2 separate regions of the Homo sapiens genome follow, and region 2 is linked to region 1. Evidence: fine-mapped expression QTL. Tissue or cell type: whole blood. Region 1 holds a variant in brackets; the other region holds the start of a gene. All regions are shown on one strand. Distances are from middle to middle.

What was found. PIP is the estimated chance that this variant, and not a neighbour inherited with it, causes the effect.
Region 2: AHNAK starts here. The variant in region 1 is fine-mapped to the expression of AHNAK in whole blood (INTERVAL, PIP 0.93).

Annotation. Positions count from the first base shown.
Region 1 is chr11:62,299,045-62,304,762 of GRCh38, forward strand. SCGB1D4 (secretoglobin family 1D member 4) reads right to left here and starts at 31. Exons shown (of 3, transcript NM_206998.2): 1 at 1-31. The variant T/C (reference allele first, on the strand shown) is at 2,064.
Region 2 is chr11:62,543,913-62,549,271 of GRCh38, forward strand. AHNAK (AHNAK nucleoprotein) reads right to left here and starts at 2,894. Exons shown (of 5, transcript NM_001620.3): 1 at 2,748-2,894. RefSeq lists enhancers at 1,401-1,911, 1,912-2,422, 3,001-3,531 and silencers at 1,566-1,695, 2,226-2,345, 2,356-2,405, 2,686-2,755, 2,876-3,045.

The DNA of each region.
Region 1 (5,718 bases):
ATGAGTGATTTGGATTCGACTCCAGGAGCCTGTGTAGTCATGGAGGCCAGGGCTATTTGTACCTAGGGAGCCTGGCTGGTCCTACCTACCGGGGCACCTGGTAGGTCATGAGGCCTGGCTCCCAGCCCGCCCTTCCAAGCCAGGGCTGCTGCCGTCCATCAATGTCACCTCCTTAGGAATCTCTGCATCTGAGTGGGGCGGAGCACAAGACAGCAGCCTTGTGAGAACTCTGCTCTGTGCTCCAGGTGAGTGTTCAGGTACATCTGGAAATGTTCCTGGGATCCTCAATTTCCTTATGAGCTTTTGCTGATTAGTTCTTTTTATCTTTGTAGCAGTGCAGGGGCACAGGTGAATTATGGCTTCACAAGGCACAGGAAGCTGGAAGGCTGTGTTCTCTTTATGGGAGAGCAGGGACATAAGGAGACCCTGCTTTGATCCCCCTGCATGTCTGACAACAAGCAGGCTTGTTTCAGTTGCACATTGGGAAAGTCTAATCCTTCCCCTCAGCCCCTTCCATCACCACCATGTTCACTGCATAGGTACTGAAAACATAGTTGAATACATCCCACCTGTAGAAGATATGCTGAGGAAAAACATCTGCTGCACCTGTTCTCTAGCCTGCCTCACTCCCAAACCTGAATCTTGTTTATACGTGCAGTTATATATATGGCCAAGATTCACATTTTCTATCTATAAAAAGCAAGCTTTCTGTGATGTGTAGCCACCCACGTCTTATCTTAGGGCTGATCTGAAGATTAAATAACCTAACTCTTTTTCTCAAGAGCTTTTGGAGTGTTCAGAGCCAATCATACATCAGTGGGGCTCTAGGCTGGGAAGATAATAGAAGGGAAGAGACAGAGGAACAGGGTGGGTGGTCACTTCCCCCTAACCCCTAGGCTCAAGTTTTCCACTTCAAACCTATCTGTGCTGCCTGGGCCAATCCCATTTTTAAGGGAAAGTGAAGGAAGCCCCCAGACAAAGCAATACACACCCGCCTTCCCTCCCATTGCCGTGCCTTCATGTGGTGTGAGTTTAATCACCAGAAATTTTTCTCTTAAATAAACTTACATTTGAGAGGAGTCACAGCCCAGGCCATAGCTTTCCATTCTCAGCTATGTAGTCAAATCACTTGGAGCTTTTAAAACATACTGACCCCACAGGCTTCTCTCTCTGGCGATTTTGATTCAGTAGCATTGGGGTGAATCCCTCCTTTCTGTACTGTTTAAACTGCTCTGGTGTTTCTCACAGACAGCAGGGCTGAGATCCAGCCAGGAAAACCTTTAAGAAGGAAGGGGACCTTACGGGTTTTGTCATCAAAGACACATTGACAGATTTAGTTGAGTCCAAGCTGAGGGCAACAGTGGATCTCACTTTCATCACACAGGATGACGACGGAGTCCCTGAATCAGCCCTGCTGCCACCAAGGAGGGGGAGGGTTGGTGGTGAGGTTTACAGCTATGAGGGTTCAGATCCTCATTTATGGGCTCCTGGACCTTAGGAAAATTATTCAGTTTATGTAACCCCAGTTTTCTCATTTGTCAAAGTAGGCTACTAATGGTGCCTACATCATTGGGTTGATAGATGATCAAATGAGTGTGTTCATGGGTGTGTGTGTGTTTAAAATATACCAAGTTCTGGTACATAGTAGTTCTCAATGTAAACTGCCATTATCTTGTCCCATTTGTCATATATGTCATGGTTTGCCAGTAGTTCCTAGTTTAGAGCACAGCCAAAATCCACTAAATCACCTACTTGCAGAACTACACGGACACCTAGATACACCATTTCTCTTTGACATAAATGGAAAAGGAAACCCAGCTCATGGTCTTGGAGGCTGCAAACCCATGAATATGGGCTTCAGGACTGAGGCCTCTTTTGCAGTAGACAGGTCTGTGAAGCATCCACCCTTTTTGTGGATGAGAGTTTATCCTCACTCAGGCTTGACATTCACCTTGTCATCTGTACAGTCCATTGGGGAGCATGTGTATCTCTGACAGAGGATTGTTTGCGTATACTTTTATTAGTCCTACCACGATTAACACCTATGCAGGGTTTTTTTGTTT[T/C]CATCATTGATGCTTTTTATGGCTCCCTCCTTTTTACACAATTGACTCAAGATTTTAGTTTATTCTTTCCATCCATGGACATCGTTGCCTGACCCCGATGACTTGTTCAATACTCCCCTTCATAGACTCTGCTGGAACCATGCACCTCTCATTTGCAGCAATCTCAAGTAACAAGGAATTTAAAAGGATTTTCTTTAAAAGTGCTCAGCTTAATTAAAAGTGGATATGTTCAAGTTATAGGTATATTGAAAAGGTCTTTATGCTTTTCTCTTGTTGAATCTTGTTTTTTGGGAAAAAGGCTCTTTTCTTTTCAATCAACTGAATTATTTTTCTCCATTTTTCATCTTACCATTCTTAATGCAAGCATGAGAAGCCCTAAGATAACTTCTGGTAGCATGGGACTCCTTGGGAAAAACAGAGGAGGCACCACAGACCCCATTTTGGGGAAAAAAAAAAAACTGTTTTCCTCATGAAACCCCCAAAATTAAAAGCAGTTACTTCTCAAAATCAAAGGCTCTGTTCTGTTATGTATTGTGTAATCTACCATTTTGAGTTTTGGGGGTGTCAAATTACTTCACACTATGAGAGAGCTTCGGTGTGTAATAACTAGATAGAAAATTCAATGTTAGGGATGGCTAATAGTAGTTATAATCAAAGAAGCGTGCTCTTGGCCACCTGAAAGATATGGCAACATCCTCACCCCCAACTAAGAGACGAGACTCCCATGGGGAATGGGCTCATTACAGAATAAGCCAATTGGCTTTGGGTTCCCTTGCAGTGAAATACGTGATAGAACCACTACACTGTCTTCTCCCATAGTATCTCCCTCCTTTTAGGGACCCAAGATCAGGTATAAAATGGCACCCTTAATTTTAGGGATCTGCCTTTGCCTTCAGCTGCGTCTGTTTATTAGGTATGCTACATAGCCCTGTTCCTTCAAGGGCTCCACCCTAAAGCCAGTAATCCAATTAAGAGACTACCAAGTGAAAAATCTTACAAGTGCTGAATCTTCTGTTTCTTAGTGTTGCTATATATGTGCTGTGTGTGATGTCTATAAAAAGAGCTCTGATTGATTGGCTTAAAGAAAAATAAGTGCTTCAATCAAATGTTTTAGTTCACATGACTTGAAGAAATAAAAATAGTCTGAAGGATTATTAGTAAAAGGCAAGTGTCATCAAAATGCAAATAGGTTGTCTAAATCATATAATTTAGATACCAGGTTTGCTAAATGTTGCAAGGTCATATACTGCCTGCTTTACACATAGGTAAGGCCTGGGACTCATGGAGCTAGAAGCTGAAAAGTCAGACTTTATCTGCACTTCTGTCTGGGTCCTAGGATCCACAGCTGGAACATAATTAAAATTGCTTACTAACCAGGTTTTTCACCAAAAATAAAAGGTGAAGGGTAAAGTTATTGTAAACCACAGAGATAAATACACTTCTTTGTCAGTTGATGGTGTTTTCTAAATATACAATCATGTCATCTGCAAACAGAGACAATTGGATTTCCTCTTTTCCTATTTGAATACCCTTTATTTCTTTCTCTTGCCTGATTGCCCTGGCCAGAACTTCCAATACTGTGTTGAATAGGAGTGGTGAGAGAGGGCATCCTTGTCTTGTGCCAGTTTTCAAAGGGAATGCTTCCAGCTTTTGCCCATTCATATGATATTGGCTGTGGGCTTGTCATAAATAGCTCTTATTATTTTGAGATATGTTCCATCAATACCTAGTTTATTGAGAGTTTTTAGCATGAAGGGCTGTTGAATTTTATCAAAGGCCTTTTCTGCATCTATTGAGATTATCATGTGGTTTTTGTCATTGGTTCTGTTTATGTGATGGATTATATTTATTGATTTGCATATGTTCAACCCGCCTTTCATCCCAGGGATGAAGCTGACTTGATCGTGGTGGATAGCTTTTTTTATGTGCTGCTGGATTCAATTTGCCAGTATTTTATTGAGGATTTTCTCATCGATGTTCATCCGGGAGATTAGCCTGAAATTTTCTTTTTTTGTTGTGTCTCTGCCAGGTTTTGGCATCGGGATGATATTGGCCTCATAATACGGGTTAGAGAGGATTCCCTCTTTTTCTATTGTTTGGAATAGTTTCAGAAGGAATGGCACCAGCTCCTCTTTGGACCTCTGGTAGAATTCGGCTGTGAATCTGTCCATTCCTGGACTTTTTTGGTTGGTAGGCTATTAATTATTGCCTCAATTTCAGAACTTGTTATTGGTCTATTCAGGGATTCAACTTCTTCCTTTCATCTTGGGAAGGTGTATGTGTCCAGGAATTTATCCATTTCTTCTAGGTTTTCTAGTTTATTTGCATAGAGGTGTTTATAGTATTCTCTAATGGTAGTTTGAAGTTCTGTGGGATCAGTGCTTATATCCCCTTTATCATTTTTTATTGTGCCTATTTGATTCTTCTCTCTTTTCTTCTTTATTAGTCTGGCTACCGGTCTACCTATCTTGTTGATCTTTTCAAAAAACCAGCTCCTGGATTCATTGATTTTTTGAAGGGTTTTTCGTGTCTCTATCTCCTTCAGTTCTGCTCTGATCTTAGTTATTTCTCATTCTCTGCTAGCTTTTGAATTTGTTCACTCTTGCTTCTCTAGTTCTTTTAATTGTGGTGTTATACTGTCGATTTTAGATCTTTCCTGCTTTCTCTTACGGGCATTTAGCACTGTAAATTTCCCTCTAAACACTGCTTTGAATGTGTCCCAGAGATTCTGGTACATTGTGTCTTTGTTCTCATTGGTTTCAAATAACTTATTATTTTCTGCCTTAATTTCATTATTTACCCAGTAGTCATTCAGGAGCAGGTTGTCCAGTTTCCATGTAGTTGTGCAGGTTTTGAGTGAGTTTCTTAATCGTGAGTTCTAATTTGATCGCACTGTGATCTGAGAGACTGTTTGTTATGATTTCCATTCTTTTGCATTTGCTGACGAGTGTTTTACTTCCAATTATGTGGTCAATTTTAGAATAAGTGCATTGTGGTGCTGAGAAGAATGTATATTCTGTTGATTTGGGGTGGAGAGTTCTGTAGATGTCTGTTAGGTCCACTTGGTCCAGAGCTGCGTTCAAGTCCTGAATATCCTTGTTAACCTTCTGTCTTGTTGATCTGTCTAATATTAACAGTGAGGGGTTAAAATCTCCCACTATTATTGTGTGGGAGTCTAAGTCTCTATGTAGGTCTCTAAGAACTTGCTTTATGAATCTGGGTGCTCCTGTATTGGGTGCATATATATTTAGGATAGTTAGCTCTTCTTGTTACATTACATAATGTAATCCCCTCCTTGTCTCTTTTGATCTTTGTTGGCTTAAAGTCTGTTTTATCAGATACCAGGATAGCAATGCCTGCTTTTTTTTGCTTCCCATTTGCTTGGTAAATATTCCTCCATCCCTTTATTTTAAGTCTATGTGTGTCTTTGCACATGAGATGGGTCTCCTGAAATACAGCATACCGATGGGTCTTGACTCTATCCAATTTTCCAGTTCATGTCTTTTAACTGGGGCATTTAGCTTGTTTATATTTAAGGTTAATATTGTTATGTGTGAATTTGATCCTGTCATTATGATGTTAGCTGGTTATTTTGCTCATTAGTTGATGCAGTTTCTTCATAGTGTCAATGGGCTTTACAATTTGGTATGTTTTT
Region 2 (5,359 bases), 240 kb after region 1:
GTGGGGGAGAGAGCCACACTGTTCCCATAAGGAGTAGGACTAGCTCTCCCGGTCTGTCTCTCTGTCTGTCTCCAGGCAGTTCCCAAGTTCTAAAGAAGGTGGTGACCACACCCCAGAGCCCCACACACCCCTCCGCCCCCACGGCTTTGCCCCAACCCCTCAAACCAGCTCCTCAGGCTCAGGGTGACCGGCTCTGCCAGGACCCACCAGCCAATTCCAAGTCGAGCAAAAGAATCCAGCCTGGCAGCACCGCCACCTTTCCCCAGGACTTCCTGAGGGCTAAGATGACTCCGGGGACCCCCAGCCAACTCCGTACCCTGGGCTGACGCTGGACCTTCTCCCTCAACAGGTCCCTGTGTCCCACCCCTGGCCCTGGACCATGTCTGGCTGCCACAAGTCCTCAGCTCCGAGGGGTTGGCTCCTCAAGGAGTTCCCGGACCAGGACCCCTGAATCGCTGCTGTGGGCCTCCATATCAGCCCGCATGACTTATGTGGCTCCCCATGTGTCCCTGTTCTCTGACCAGTGTCCCTGTGCATAACCTCTTAGGGACAAAGGCTTTAGAGAGGGGCTCAGACACCCTCTAACCCACATTCCCACAGCCCCCAAACCCTGCGACCTCTCCTAGCTCCACTCTTACCCTCCCTAGCTCCTCTCCCACCCTCCCTCACCCCAAAGCTCACAGCTCAGAGCAAAGAGGTGCCCCTAACTTGGGGGCTCCCCTGTCCTCCCCATTCTGCACAGGCCACTATCCACGCGGTGGGGGGTGGGTGACCCCGCTGTCCCTAAGGACTGGAGAAGGAAGCTTCCCCCCATTCAGCTTCTGAAAGGAAGTGAGTGCCACACCCTGCCCCTGGGATTTCCCTCACGGGGAGGGGATGAAAGCGAGATCTCTACCCTGAATTACAGCCAGTATAGGTGCAGGGGCCCTTAAACGCCTTCCCCCACTCTCAGCTTCACTGCTGCAGCCCCTCACTGTATTCCACAAAATCAACCCAACACCTACCATGCACTAGGCTGTGCTGGGACGGGCAAGCAGAGAGCAGGAGCCCTGCAATCCGAGGTTGGATTCTAATGAAGACGGGTTCGAAACCAGTATTTACTGAGCGCCCAGCGCTGTGCTGGAGACACAGAGGTAGATATCTCGGTCCCTTTTCCTCCGGAGACTCCGGAGGTCTAAGGACCTGACTGACTTGGGAGGCTCCCACACTGCCTTTCCACAAATCCCCTCCACAGAGCAGGGCACTCTGCAGCGACCGCACGCTCCCTGGGAGCACCTCACTGCCACGGTCGCCGCGGCGGGAGCCACACCCTGCGAAACCGGCAAGCACACACATCGCACACAACCCTCAGTGGCCTCATTGTGCAGAGGGGCCAGAGCCGTTCCCCACCTTGTTGTGGGGCCTCGGCTACAGCTGAGAACACCCATCTGCCCCCTCCGCACCCCTCCCAGCAAGGGGCACAGCCAGCCCTGTTTGGGCCCCTGGAGTCCCTCATGGTCAGCGCCGCCAAGGGGCTGCGCCCCCACATCCCGGCCTGGGCACTGCTGGGGGGCGACCAGCCCTGCCAGGGACGGCCCAGGCCCTCGCACACTGCACACACACACCCCCTCCCCTTGCATGGGAAAGCCTTACATAACACAGCTCTGCACACACCCTAAGCACGCTGCCTTTCCAACTCTAGGCGAGACCTCGCTTCGGGCCCCCTCTCCTGGCGCGCACCGCTGGAGCGCAGGGTTCCAGCGAGCGCAGCTTAGCCCTCCTCCCACGCCAAGCCCGGCTCCTGCCCCCAACTCCCACACACAGCCCCTTCCTCCTCCCCTTTGCCCCTCACCACTCCTCCCTGAGTTCTGGTTTGAATTAGTCACCGGCTCCAACCACCACATTCCTCAGGCTGCTGGCGCCGGGCCAGGCTCTGGGGCGGGGGCCATCCCGCCCGGACGGGTTTGGGAGTTGGGCGGGGGGAAAGCGCCGCCTCCGGAGGGGAAGGGGCGGTCCCGAGGACTGGGCCGCCGCAGCGCACCCCCCTCCTCGCCCACCTCAGCATAGGAATCTCCCTAATTTTGTCCCCCTCCCCACCCATCCCGCTGGGAGGCGCATTGCAAACTTCCAGGTTCCGCGGCCCGAGAGGAAGGTTTTCTGGAGCGGGGAACGCGGAGAGGCAAGGCTAGGGCGGGGCAGCTGGAGGAGGCTGAGGGGCTGGTGGTACAGAACAGGGTGGGGCCTGGACGACTCGGGACGCGGTTAGGGGCAGAGGTGCAGGGAGCGCGGAAGGACAGCCGAGGGGGCGCACGGTGCGGGGTCGCGGAGGCGCGGAGGCGCTGGGGGCCGCGGTGGCGATCTCGGAAATTTCCCCTCCAGTAAACATGGGATACGAACGGAGCAGCCCCCGAGCCACCGCCCCATGCAGGGAGAGGAGGTGGGACAGAGGCCACCAGGCCCGGAACGGGGCGCCCTGCCTTGCAGTGGAGCCAACAGTCCGCCCTCCGGAGAAATAAAGAGTGGAGCAAAGCACTTCGGAGCGATTTTCCAACTTTAACCAACTTGCGCCCCAACTCCAGAGGCAGAACTCCGCTCCCAGAGAGCGACGCGTCGCCGCCCCGGGTGGCCCCGCTTGCTCCAAACTGCTTGAATCCTCACAGTGACACCCCCAACAACGCGCCCTGCCGGAGCACCGCAACCCACCTCCCCGCGACCCGCCCTTGGTGCCCCGGACCCCGATGGCGCCACGGTGCGCCTGGCGCCCCTACCTGAGGGCTCAGCCCCAGGGCACGGCCATAGCCGGCGCGAGGCCCAAGGCTGCGGTGCTGCGGCTACTGGCGGCGACGAGCCCCGTTCCGGGCGGGTCTGGCAGGGCGGGCGGTGCAGTCCCCGCGGCAGAGCAGCTCCGAGTGGCCGGGCCCCCGTGCGCGGAGGCGGCTCTTGTAACTCCGGCTCGGGCGGGCGGGTCTGCCCGGAGCTGTGGGGAGAGGGCGGGGCCGGGCGGGGCCGGAGCGGGGCTGGGACTGGCGAGCGGGGCAGACCCTGGAGGGACCCGGGAGTGGGCTGCTGGGGAGGGGGGCCGCTGGGGGACGCGGGGACATTCTTTCCCCCCCTCCCCGCATCCACTGCCCCCTGTCCTGTCCCGGACCTGGACCTGCTCTCCAACATGTGCACTGTGTGGCTTCATTGGCAAGAAACTCCTGCAGGCTCCCTGGGCTCACCCTCACAGCTGGAACTGCGAATCAACTTATTTTGCAGGAAGGGCCTGGGGGCTCTGAAGGTGGCTGGGTGATTCAGCCGCGACCGTCAGCTTGCTCCGGACCTTTGAGTTTTCTCTCAGCTTAGGCAACTACACTTCAGATCCCAGGCCCCAGCCTCCTTGCTTGGTTCCCAAGCTCCGTGCTGCCGCGCCCATTTCTCGCGTTCTCTCTTTCTGGGGGCCCCTCCGTCCATATCCGCACAGAACTGGCTTGGATTTCCACCCCCCAGGAGCCGGGGTCACCAGTGCCTCGCGCACCGCGGTGCTGCGCAGGCCGCGGGCATACGGGGGTGAGGACCCCGGGCGTTGGACAGCGGACCCGACGCCCACCTTCCTCTCCAGACTCCCGCCCCCAGGAGCCAGAGCCCCAGCGCTTCCTCTGCCTCCCATTCCTTCTCTGAGCGCCGCCCCCGCCTCCCCACTTGCGGGACGCTGAGTCTCCTAATTTACAGCGATTTCCCACAGCCACTTCTAACTACATCGAGATTTTATTAAACGTTTAATGATGGGGTGCGGGGGCCTTCTGGCTACACACTCCCCTCCACACTCCCTTTCTCTTCTCCCTCATGAGTCCTTTTATCCTCCCTCCTAGGTGGCCACCCACTGCCCGCTCCAAGCCAGTTTCCCCTCCTTCCCAAATGCTAAGGAAAGAGAGACCCCAGGCTGGGGAACTAAGGAGACCTGGCCAAGGCAGGAGCGCCCTCCTTGCTGCAAGATCATGAGTGGGCTGGAGCTGAGACCAGCTCGGCCCTGTCCTCTGAAATGGCAAACATGTTTACAGGCTAAAAATACCCAGCAGTCAACTCTGCTGCCAGCCCTGGGGGCTGTGTCCAGGTCCAGTTACCGGCACAGAGTACAGGCCGTGGGGGAGGGAAGAGACAGCCAGAGGAACCACAGACATGGGCACTCATATAATGGACACAGAAAGGTGGAGCCGCATGTGCAGACATCCAGACAGGCAGAGACATGTGAAAACACAAAGCGGAGACTTGGGCACCAGCATTTTCTCTTGCTCTCTCTAATACACACACACAGGTGCCCAGATAATGACTCAACCCCATGGCAGAGGCAGCCTCGCCACAACACATCCCAAGCACACAGTCACAGACTCACACTTTCCCAAGAATCACCTGCTCCCCCATTTTGTTCTGCACCCCTTTCCTAGCACCTACCTTATTTAAAGAAAAAACAAATCTAAAACTTTTGAGCTATAGAACACTTAAAAAAAAATTACCAAGGCCAGGCGCGATGCCTCACACCTGTAATTCCAGCACTTTGGGAAGCCAAGGCAGGTGGATCACTTGAGCTCAGGAGTTCGAGACCAGCCTGGCCAACATAGTGAAACCCCGCCTCGACTAAAAATACAAAAATTAGCAGGGCATGGTGGCGCAGCCTGTAATCCCAGCTGCTCGGGAAGCTAAGGCAGGAGAATCCCTTAAACTTGGGAGGCAGAGGTTGCAGTGAGCCAAGATCGTGCCACTGCAGTCCAGCCTGGGTGACAGAGCGAGACTCCATCTCAAAAAAAAAAAAGTACAATAAAACACAGACTTCTCCCTCCTCCCCTATCACAGTCCCTCTTCCCAAAAGTAACCATTGTTAACAGTTTACCAAAGGATTTTTAACTTTATGGAATGAATCATCATCTCGTTCCTTGAAAGAGCGAATGTTCCCAGTGCATATTAAAACAGGAGTTGATTCACACCTAGGTTGGAAACACAGGGTATCTGCAAAAAGGGCTAAGGGGGCGTGGGGGGCTGCTAGAGCAGAAAAGGAAGAAGAGCACGGAAAGGCGTGGACGCTGTGTCTTCGCCTCGACTGGGCTAGATCGGCCCCCCAGGATCCAAACAGCAGAGGCCAGAGTCCCAGGCTCAGAGCCAACTTATCTGCTCCATTGTTTGTTCTGGCCACCCTCTTGGTCAACAGGGAAGAAGGCAGGAGGGAGAGGTTGGTTTTTGAAGCAGCCCCAGAGCAGAGATCACTGACCAGGTACTTCATTCAGGGATATGAATGTCAAGATTACCTGGTCGGGGGGTAGTTCTGAGGACTGGCTCTTGTCCCATTCCAGACTGGAGGGCTAGAGAAGGCTTAACCTCAACCCTACCCTCTAAAAAACCATGATCC